Regions from separate parts of the Homo sapiens genome. Here region 1 is linked to region 2. Evidence: fine-mapped expression QTL. Tissue or cell type: lymphoblastoid cells. Region 2 holds a variant in brackets; the other region holds the start of a gene. All regions are shown on one strand. Distances are from middle to middle. Region 1 holds the start of SPTLC2 (serine palmitoyltransferase long chain base subunit 2). Region 2 overlaps NRXN3 (neurexin 3).

The links.
Region 1: it holds the start of SPTLC2, and the variant in region 2 is fine-mapped to the expression of SPTLC2 in lymphoblastoid cells (GEUVADIS, PIP 0.95).

What each region holds. Positions count from the first base shown.
Region 1 is chr14:77,613,921-77,619,296 of GRCh38, forward strand. It overlaps SPTLC2 (serine palmitoyltransferase long chain base subunit 2), which reads right to left and starts at 2,717. Exons shown (of 12, transcript NM_004863.4): 1 at 2,528-2,717. The coding sequence starts at 2,659. RefSeq lists enhancers at 1,974-2,183, 2,512-3,044 and silencers at 2,364-2,563, 2,704-2,753, 3,084-3,143.
Region 2 is chr14:78,201,558-78,206,933 of GRCh38, forward strand. The region is part of intron 1 of NRXN3 (neurexin 3); the gene reads left to right. Among named protein-coding and RNA genes, the nearest start is that of NRXN3, 34 kb to the left of the region's middle. The variant G/C (reference allele first, on the strand shown) is at 2,683.

The DNA.
Region 1 (5,376 bases), 590 kb before region 2:
ATAAGAAAGAAAAATATTCACAGACAATATTCCTCCATCTGAGAGTGTAGAAAGCTCCAGATCTGAAGTCTGTATTAAAAATACTGGTGAGAAGTAGTTTTCTAGAAGGGATACTGCAGCCCTCACAGCATTCCAACAGACCGTTCTTCCAAATGCCACCAATGTGCCTTGAGTGAAACTTTTACAAAACATGTCCCCAAAAGTCAACCAAATGTTATTCATACAGATTTTAAAATGTCATGTTAGTACCTTGATATTTCTTCACCTTATTAGTTGGCAAGCTCTGAAGAAATATCATTCTATAAATGCTAAATTGTTAGAGATTATGGGAGAAAGGTCCTTGATTTCCTACTAAATCTGAACATAACTCATAGGGATTGAAAGAAGCATTTGAACACAAAGCAACGCTGAAGTGTGAACACCTTTCTCTTGACTTCCTTTTTCATTTTAAAAAATCATACCGGCCAGGTGCAGTGGCTCACACCCGTAATCCCAGCACTCTGGGAGGCCGAGGCAGGCGGATCACGAGGTCAGGAAATCAAGACCATCCTGGCTAACACAGTGAAACCCCGTATCTACTAAAAATACAAAAAATTAGCCGGGCGTGGTGGCGGGTGCCTGTAGGCCCAGCTACTTGGGAGGCTGAGGCAGGAGAATGGCGTGAACCTGGGAGGTAGAGCTTGCAGTGAGCCGAGATCGCGCCACTGCACTCCAGCCTGGGCGACAGAGCGAGACTCCATCTCAAAAAAAACCAAAAAAACAAAAAAAATCATACCTCGGCCTGGTGCGCCTGTAATCCCAGCACTTTTGGAGGCCAAGGCAGGCCAATCACCTGAGGTCAGGAGTTCGAGACCAACCTGGCCAACATGGTGAAACCCCATCTCTAATAAAAATACAAAATTTAGCCGGGCGTGATGACGGGCGCCTGTAATCCCAGCTACTCGGGAGGCTGGGGCAGGAGAATCGCTTGAACCCAGGGGGTGGAGGCTGCAGTGAGCCGAGATCGCGCCATTGCACTCCAGCCTGGGTGACAAGAGCAAAACTGTCTGAAAAAAAAAAACAAAAACAAAAACAAAAAAAAAATCATACCTCAATGAAATTCACCTGCAAATGTATTTTCTAACTCCTACCCGTTAAATTTCCCTATTACATTCTATACCACAACAATTTTGTCTTATAAGTCGTTTACATTGCTAGGAAAACGACAAACTATTCCACTGCTTATAATGAGCTGACTGTTATCACTTCCTCCCTCACACAATTATTTCTTTAAAAGTGAAAACAAATCTTTTGATCTGTGTATTACTTCGCTTTGACACCTTACAACTTCAGGGGAGGTCAAGTCTGCTTTACTTATTTTTCCCCTCAACTCAGTCTCAATATCTCAACATGACCTGGAAAAATGCTTTATTTTCTGCTTCGCAGCAAACAGTAACAGACCTATCCATCATAACTACTCATCTGGGGAGTAGTTATGTTAAAGCCAAATTAAGATCACCATCCTATCAAACTGCAACAGTCACACTCCCGCTAAAGGGAAACAGAGTACTTTCTAAGCGTTCCTTAATATCTGTACAAGACTTAAACGTATTAAAGTCAACTGCAAAATTATCGCAACACTCTCTTCCAGGAACACCGATCTTGCATCTTTTTAACCAGCTCATCTTTAAAAACACATTTCAACAGAATATCTGTCAGTCCAGACCACTGTAAGGTTGATAATAAGCATTGTCTTGAATTTAGAACTTTTCAAAATATTTTAGAACTGCCTGAACTTGGTTGATGATTCAGCATGGTTAATTAGTATAGAGTCATCGCAAGTCACCACCAGGCTAAACAATCCCCTTGTGTGATAGCACTCGTGTTCAGGAAAGGGTCGAAGGGGCCACCTAATCCAACCTGGAGCCTGGGGTAGAGTCTCACCACCGGCAGAGTTAAGAGAATGATGCTTTCGAGGGACCAGCTTGGATTCCCTGCCAGATCTATGGACCAATGTCCTGGTTGGGGACTGAACGTGGTAGTCCAGAATGTGGTTGGGAGAGGCTGGGTGTGTTTCCATCTGACACCACCGCCTAATTTTCTTTGCTTCTTAAGGACCCCATGGGTGGTTTTCTTTGGACGACTGCAGGACTTTAAAAGGAAGCAATAACCTCAGGGGTTTGAGAAGGGACCCTCCGGAGCCCTTGGGCGGCTCCCACTGGAGTCCGAAGGGCCCCTCATCGCTTCCCCTGGGGACAGCACACACTTCTGGCAGAATGGGGCAGAGAAAAGTACCCGGAGCTCTGAGCAGAACCCAGAGCTCCGGGAGTAAGACCTCCAGGCGCGGAGAGGTGGGGAGCCCCCGAGCCGTCCTTGAGCCTCCAGGCTCGTGGAGGTCGGGCCAGCGGCCGGACACTGCCGCCCACACCTGCGAACGGCGCCCGCCCCGCGGATTGCCCAGCGGATGGCCCGGAGACCTCGCCCCGCCCGGCCGCCCCTCCGCCAGTCCACACCGCCACCCCGGCCCCGCCGCGCGGGCCCCTCGTACCTGGCCGGCGGCGGCTGCGGCTGCGGCTGCAGCGCTGCTCCTCACGTACCCGTTCCGTACTTCCCCGTTCGCCACGCAGCCATTCGCCCGCACCGTGCGGCGGCAGCAGCAGCCTCCGGGCTCCGGCCGCATCTTCCTGGCAGCACCAGGCGCAAGGCAGGCTCTGTAGGCGGTGGCAGCGGCGGCGGCTGCTCCAAGTCCCGCTCCGCACCCCACCCACCTCCCCGAAACCGGAAATGGCTGCAGCGCCGCCGCCAATTCCCGGGCGGGCCTTCACAGAGGGCGGGGCCCTCTCCGCAGAGGACCGGTCTCGGCCAAGGCCACGCAGCGAAGGGAAAAAGCGGCGGGGACCTGCCGAGAGGGATGTGGTCCTGAGGACCGCTGACCAATCTGGAAGAGAAGGAGGCGGACCCCATGCTGCTGCCTGGCCAATCACGGACGAGAGCAAAGCGCCTCGCCGGTGGAGAGGGGGCTTCTCTAGAGGGACTCCAGGGCCTGGCACCTGATTGGAGGCCGCATCCAGGTCCGGGGTAGGGCTTGCCTGTTTAATGGTCCAGACCGAGGAGGAGGCGGAGCCCAGGGAAAAGTAGCCAATTAGAGTGTGAGGAAATAAAAGGGGCTGAGCCGAAGTCTCTAGAGCGGGTTCCCAGGTTCTCCAGGACAGGTGGCGCCCTCTTTGCCCTTGCCTCGTGGGAAGTTTTGGAGTTTATGTCCTAGCCCAAGACAGGCAGCTCGCTTATTTAATTAGCTGATTCCTCTGTGAGTGTTTATAGAATAGATTTTTTGACAATCTCTCATCATTCTTCAATATGCGCCACACATTCACTATTTCTGAATTATTATAAGTAATAATTCAGATGCCTTTTCACGTGCCCTTCACATTTGCCCTTGGCAGGGTTTTCTATACAGTCTCCTTTAAATTAAGTCTTTCCTTCAAAGTTAGAAAACCTGGTCTAATTCCAACTCTGCCAATAACTGGAAGCTAAAACTTGAGCACTGTGTTTAACCACTTTAGAAGCCAAATTCTTTAAAATGGAGTTAATACTTCCTGCTTCATAGACTTACAGCAAGAATTATATCATTAACCCATTATGCACCTCTTATAATACTAGGCTTATAGTAGGAGTATAATAAATATTATTTTCTCACCCTTTTAGTTCCATCTTCCCATGGGGTTAGAAAGCAAGGAAATTGATCTACATTACAATTAGAGACTTTCTGTTATCCATAAAGAATTTAGTATCATAATTGAGAGTATGGACTCTGGAGTCGGTCTGGGTTTTAAATCCTAGCTGCGCCACTTACTAGCTGAGTGACCTCTATGTGTCTTCATCTGTTCAGTGGGGACAATAATAGTTGTCGTGAAGATTGAATAAGTTTATGTATGTAATGTATTTTGTACAGGACCTAGCAATTAGTAAGCATTCATTAAGTGTTGGTTACTAGTAATTGCTAAATGCACCTATGAGAATCCGTGCATTCTTTCCCCACCCTGCAGGAGCTTTAGAAAGGAGGTCCACAAGGTATTGGTTTTGCATGACTTAGGAGCTGAATAATCTAACAGAAGGTGGGATCATTCATCCCACACATCCTATTTGAGTTGACAAACACTATTGATCCCAAAGTGAATATACATCTGTATGTATAAGGCTAAAAAGGAAACATGTGGCTGTGCTTCATGGAGCTTACATTTCAGTGAGAGACAAGATATACACATAGAAAGAAAACAATAGTTAAAGACCAACCTAAGGCTGGAGAGATTAGGCAACAGGAGTTCTGATGAGGGAAGCTGAATGGCAGTGATGAGTCTAACCAGGTAGAAAGTTTTCAGGGCAGGAATCTGGATGGAAGCAGGGCTAAGGGATTTAACTGAAGCTTAGGGAGTGAGCTGAATGACTCTGGAGAAGGCTTGCGAGGAAGATGTGCAATGAGACAGATCTTGGAAGATGAGCGGGACTTGGAGAGCTGGAACTGAGAAGGATGGGGAGGGTGTTCTGAGGAAACCTTCAGAAACTCGGGTGTCGAGTCTAGAAAGATCAAAGCCTCACCTGCAGGCTAAGAGGAGTAAAGGAGTCTGGCTAGATTTGAGGAGTCCTGTTAGCCGATCCCTCCTCAGGGGGCTGGCCCCTTGTCTTGTTCCGCCACTTACTCACTATGTATAGTCTTGGACAAGTAATGCAAACTCAGCCCTGGTTTCCTCACTCATCTTACAAAGTGTGTACCTGTACTACTTACCTTACAGGCTTCTGTGAGCATCAGTGATATACAGATGATCTGATTACTTCACATGCCATTGCTAAATCACAAAAATGATGCTGCAGTAGGCAGTAGGAAACACCCCAGACTCCATGTAAACAGGAAAACAACTCCTTCCAGAAACATAAGCCGCTTAATCATCATTTTACAGTGTTCATATGCAAAGTTCTGTGCTAGGCACCAGGAAGACAACCCTTCTCTTCCTTCAAGATTGCTCAAACCACTTCAACTGTGAAGCCTGTTTTGAACCCCAACCTCCCCACAAAATTAGTTGCTTTCTCCTCTGTGAGCTTTATACACACCTGTGTAAGCATGTATCACACTGCTTTGAGATTCTTTGAGAGGGAGGTTACACAATGCTTAGAAGCAAGAGCTCTGCAGTCAGATATACCATAATTGAAGACCGGTTTCAGCACCTAGAATCCTTATGATTTAGGCAAAGCTGCCTAACCTCTCTATGACTCAGGTACTTCTTCTGTAAAATGGGATATACCTCATAGAGTTGGAGAATTAACAAAAGCATTTAGTGCCAAGACCTGTTACATAATATTAAATGAGTGTTGGTAATTATTCATTGGATAAATGAAGTACTT
Region 2 (5,376 bases):
GTTGGAGCAGGGGGAGCCTGCATCGAGGACTGGTTGTACTCCCTTGGCTTGCATGGGACTTCTACGTCAGAGTGAGAGAACACGCACAAATCTGCTGCAATTGACCTTTTAAGTCAACCCGTTGCATATGTTTGCTACACGAAGGAGCTGCTGACAAGTCTCGGGCTGGAGACAGAAGGTGGAGAAGAAAGGAGAAATCTCACCACCACGGGCTGGTGAGACAGAGCAGTGGGCAGAGACAGAGCTGTGGTGATGCTGTCAGCCGCTCCGACATGCTGTTCTTCCATCTTCTCCGATGACGCGCGTCTGAAGTGTGACTCGGAGGCCGCAGGAGGAAAGTGCGATGAGCCTGCACCATTCAAAGCCTCTCTCTGAGCAAGGTCGCCAGGGCGGAAATTGGCTACAGCGACCAAGGCCATTGAATCTAAGGTCCATTTCTGGCTAGGGCTTCAACCAAGGGAAGAATGGGTGGCTGGTTCAGGTGCAGCCCAGAATGAAAGCAGTGGGGAGGGAGAAACTCCCATAGCTGCCATGGGTGAGCTGCCATGGGTGAGCTGCCATGGGTGAGCCGCGGCATGCCTTCCAGGATGAGAGAGCCAAGTGCCATCCTGGGTGAAGTAGGAGGGGGAAACGAAAGGCTGGGTCATTTGAGACAAGCATGCCTCCATTACCCTGCCTGAAAACGAAGGGAACACCTGTTCTTGTCTGCAGTCAGAGAGGATTTGACAGAATTTTTAAAGTAAAAAGTGAAATGAAATTTAGATCAGCCTCTGCAAAAGGACTTTGTGGATTTCCTGTCGGTTAAAGATGTGGCAGCATTATTGTTCCTGTTTCTGGAGATGTCAAGAGTAAAATGGTGTGACGTTTGTCAAGTGCTTGGACTTACTATAACCAGACATGCTGCCGGGGGCCTTCCCTGAAGGTCACCTGTCAGGGCTGTAAAGTCAGGGGATGTGGGGATGGGAGGAGGTCAGCTAGGTCACCTGAAAGTCCCTCCTAGGTCTGTGAAAAATCTGTTAGATGGAAAAATAAATGGCAGGGATGGGCTTTCTGTTTCTATGTGTGTTGGCCAGGTGGGCTAAACAGATCTCTCATATCAAGGCCAACCCCTCACTGACACCCTGCGAGGGAAAACTTGGTTGCTGTGGGTGGGGACAGTGTCCCTGCCAACTGTTAAGAGTCCCTGCCCTTTTCCAGGGACAAGGGCAAGACAGGAAAAGGGGACCAATTTCCGAGTACTGTGTGCTAGACTCAGGTTTGTGATGTATATTATTTTAGTTTTATAATCCTAACCCAATGCCATAGGTAGAATTAGCATTTTCTGTATTACATATGAGGACACAGAGGGGCAGAGCCATTAGAACACTAGAATAAAGCAACACAGCTAGCCAGCAAGTAGAGATAGACATCTAGGACCACAGCCTGGTCGGGGCTACCATCCCCCTCTACTTCTCTGGCTGGGGATGGGGCTTGTTGGCTCTTTCAATACATGGGCATGTCAAGGCTCATATCTGAGTCCCCATGCCTTTCTCTTTACACATGAGATGTTTCCTCTTACACTTATGTCCATAGAGAGGGCTTTCCCCTGGGAATGTGCCCTGGGGGCCTGAGGCTGTGAGTTACTGTGCAGATGTGAAGTACCAGGTGTGCTGAAGGCAGATTGGTTTGTGAGAGGGGGCAACTCCTTTGTTTCACCCCCAACCCCCATGTGAGATGAGGCTTCCTGGGGCCCAGGGGCAATATTACTAATAATTACTCATTGTTGGCATTTTGGAGCTAGGTAAAGCATTCTCCCATTGCTACTGTTTCAGGGTTAGACATCAGTGACGAGTAGCCTGGGATATGGCACTGGCTCCCAGGTATGATGTATTTCTTTGATCCTAGTCTTTTTCAGCTGCTCGGCTCAGTTTCAAAACTGGGTGGGAAATGTCACAGGCTCATTTTCTTGTTGTTTTTCTTCTGTCCCCTGAGGGGTATGGCCACATGCAGAGAGGTGGAAAGGAGGGACAGGAAATGGGACCAATCCACCTGTGTTCGGAAACCTCAGTTAGTGTTGCTTTATTTCCTTCACCAATCTGATAAGGTTTTCCGTTACCACTATTAATACATAGTACTTTATGTGATACAAATGATAAACACTAATACTGAAAACTTTAAAAAGTCAGAAAAGCACAGAGACAGAAGCAAAAAAATCACTATTTTCCTACCACATACCATTGTTGACTTTTTGGTGTAGATCCTTCCAGGTGTGTGTGTGTGTGTGTGTGTGTGTGTGTGTGTGGTTTGTGTGTGTGTGTGGTTTGTGTGTGTGTGTGGTTTGTGTGTCTGTATTAGATTGTATACACTTCTTTTTTTATTTGTTTACAGAAACACACTGTGTTGTCTGATTTTTTTTTCCTGATTTTAGTGTTATAATGTGAGCTTGTTACTGTGCCAGTAGGTATTCTTTAACCTTTTATTGAAAGGGTTGTAAAGGTATAAAGTACTCCATTACAGAGATGTAACAATTTACTTTATTCCTTATTGTTGGATATTTAAATTCTACATTTTCTATATTTAAAAATAATATTGTTCCTCCCGCTAAAGTTTATGCCATATTACCATCCCACCTGCAGAGTATAAGAATTAACATTTTCCAGCCCCTTTATAATGTATTTTTGCTAAGCCTGGCCTATTAGATAG[G/C]CCTAAAAAAGTGACATTTTTTTTTTTGTTTTAACCTTGGCCAGTTCTAAGAAAGAGCACGAGCATGTATGAATGGGTTCTTCAGTGGTGTGAGGAAAAAATATGTTTGCCACCTTGGTTTGTTTTTCTTTATTTGCCTCTTGGTTTTTCCTTTGTCAGCGTAATGCAGAAACACTAGATCTCCACCCTAAGAAAAAAGGTATATAAAAATATATTTAGGGATATTTCTCACAGTTTTATTTATAATGTTACTGTGAGAAAAGTTTTAAAAAGTTGAAATATCTTAAGTTCTTTGGATGGGGAATTACTTAAATTAATGGTGGTAATGAAATATTATGCTATCATCAAAATAACTTAATGGTGTAGGGAAAAATCAAGCTATAAACTATGTATATTATGATCTAAATTAAATAATATGTGCATAGAAAAAAGACTACAAAGGTTAATGTTAATCATTTCTAAGTGGCATAATTGTGCTTTTTCTCTTGTATTTTCAAAAATTTCTAGCAGGCACATGTATTATTATTGTAATCCTACACAAAACAAATGTTAGCATAAATTCTAAAATATCATACATGGCAATAAAGAGCCGTAAGTAACTGGGTTTTGGGTCACTTGGATTCTACTGAGGACTTTGTAGGTGATGGAGCCTTTTCACGTTCTTTGAGGTTTGTGGAGTTCTTTGGAAGTTTTCAGGACCATTTCATAGGAGGGGCTTCTAGGAGACCAGAGTCAAAGTGCGGAGACCAAGAGTAGCTTTCTATCTGACCTTCTGCCCTTTGTGTTGATGGGGGCACAGGTAGTGCAGGAGAAATCTATTTAGGTGCCCGCTGCCCCAGCCCACAGGGCACGCTGAACATGCCACCCAAGGTACCAGTGGATCTCAGGATCACTGCAGTTGGTGTTTGGAGACTGAAGGGCTGGGGATGCCAGAGGGTTAATGTCTAAATATCATTGCGAGGACTGATTGGATGTGTTTAAGTATTTCTGACAATGACAAGCATAATGGGGACAGAATTCTGTGCCAATCCCTTTACCTACTGATGAGGAAATGGAGGTCTGGGGGGGATTAAGTCACTTGCCCATGCAAGCATCTTTATTTTTCTTTCCCAACCCAGAGTACCACTGGCATGGTGCAATGTGTCATGTGTTGGGTCTTTTCAGATTGGCTGAGACGATGCACGGCACACTTGGATGTTGTTGAAGTACTTACACTTTGCTTGGGTAGAGTTTGCATGAAAGAGCATTATTTAACTCTTTGAGTAGTAGGATTGGGCTTCCTGGAGGAATTGAGGTGAAAGATCAAAAAGTTGATTGTGGCTTGGCTTAGGCCAAGAGGGTAAAGAGGAGTATTCCAGGTAGAGGGAACAGTCTGTGCAGAGGTGGAGGGACAGCAGGGTGCATTAGAGACAAAGATTGCTGAGGGAAGAGCCAGCTGCAGGATGAGAGGGATGCATCTAAAGAGGTGGCAGACAGCTGGGAAAGGGCCTTGCCTGCCAGGCCAGAGTTTGGACTCCATGTTGAGAGCCACCAAGAGTCACTGAAGAGCTCTAAGGAAAGGAGTTGTGTGCTCGAACTGAAATTATGCCAAGATCACTTTGGCTCCAGTGTGGGAATGGGTGAGAGAGGACCAGGGCTGAATGCAAGGAGATAAGTGAGGAGTCTAGGTCAACAATTCAGGTAAGAGATGGTGATGGAGTTAAGTGGCAGTGAGGATAGAAAGGGGTAGGCAGGCAGAAGGGAAGAGTTTGTATTGAGCAATTGGGAGGTTGTGGGTGCCATTTGATGAGGCCAAGAAACCAGATCACAAAGCAAATGTGGAGGCTGCTGGGAGGTTGATGAATCCAGGTTGGGGCATATTGTGTTTGCGGTACCTGTGGGGCACAAAAGTGGAGATGCCCTGTCTTTTTGTTTTGTAAAGTACCCAGTAGAGGCTCACTTTTTTCCTCTGACACCATGGAGGAGTTTCTCTATGTACAATGAGACTTGTCTTCCAAAACCTTTTCATGACTGCTTTTCCCAGGTGCTCACACCATTCCTGTGAAGTGGACTAGGGGAGCTTTTCTCAATGCAGAGTGTTCAGACACAGTATCCCATGAAATGGTGTTCGTGTTTTCTTGGAATACAGCCATGCAGGGGGTTTCCACACTGTGTTTGGATCACTCATACCCCAGAAATGGCAGGTTTCTCCTCCTCTAGTCTGCCCAGAGGAGGGGGACCTGAGTGGGGAAGAAACTCTCTCTTGTGCCCTGAGAAGAATGCTTCTCTCTCTGTAAATAAAGAGGAACAAAGGCCCAGAGAGCCCAAGAGAGGAAAAAAAAGAGTGAAAGGCTGAGATGAGATTGCTCCCATTGCTTAACTAGTGGCCTCCTTGGTTGGTAGGGCAGCTGGCAGGACTACCGCCTGCACTCCTTCCCTGGAGTTACTGTCCTGAATGTTCTCAGGGTGGTTACACAGACCCATCTTGAGGTCACTTCATGGTCCCGTTTCATAACTGGCAGGGATGTTGGAGATTATGGAGTCCAAACTGTGGCTCAAAGTGGGTGGTGAGCAACTTGTCCAAGGTTACACAGTGAGTTGGCCTCCAGGCTTCTTTTCCTGTTTTGCCACATCGGACATTCTTTTTTTTTTGTTTGTTTTTTGAGATGGAGTCTTGCTCTGTTGCCCAGGCTGGAGTGCAGTGGTGAGATCTTG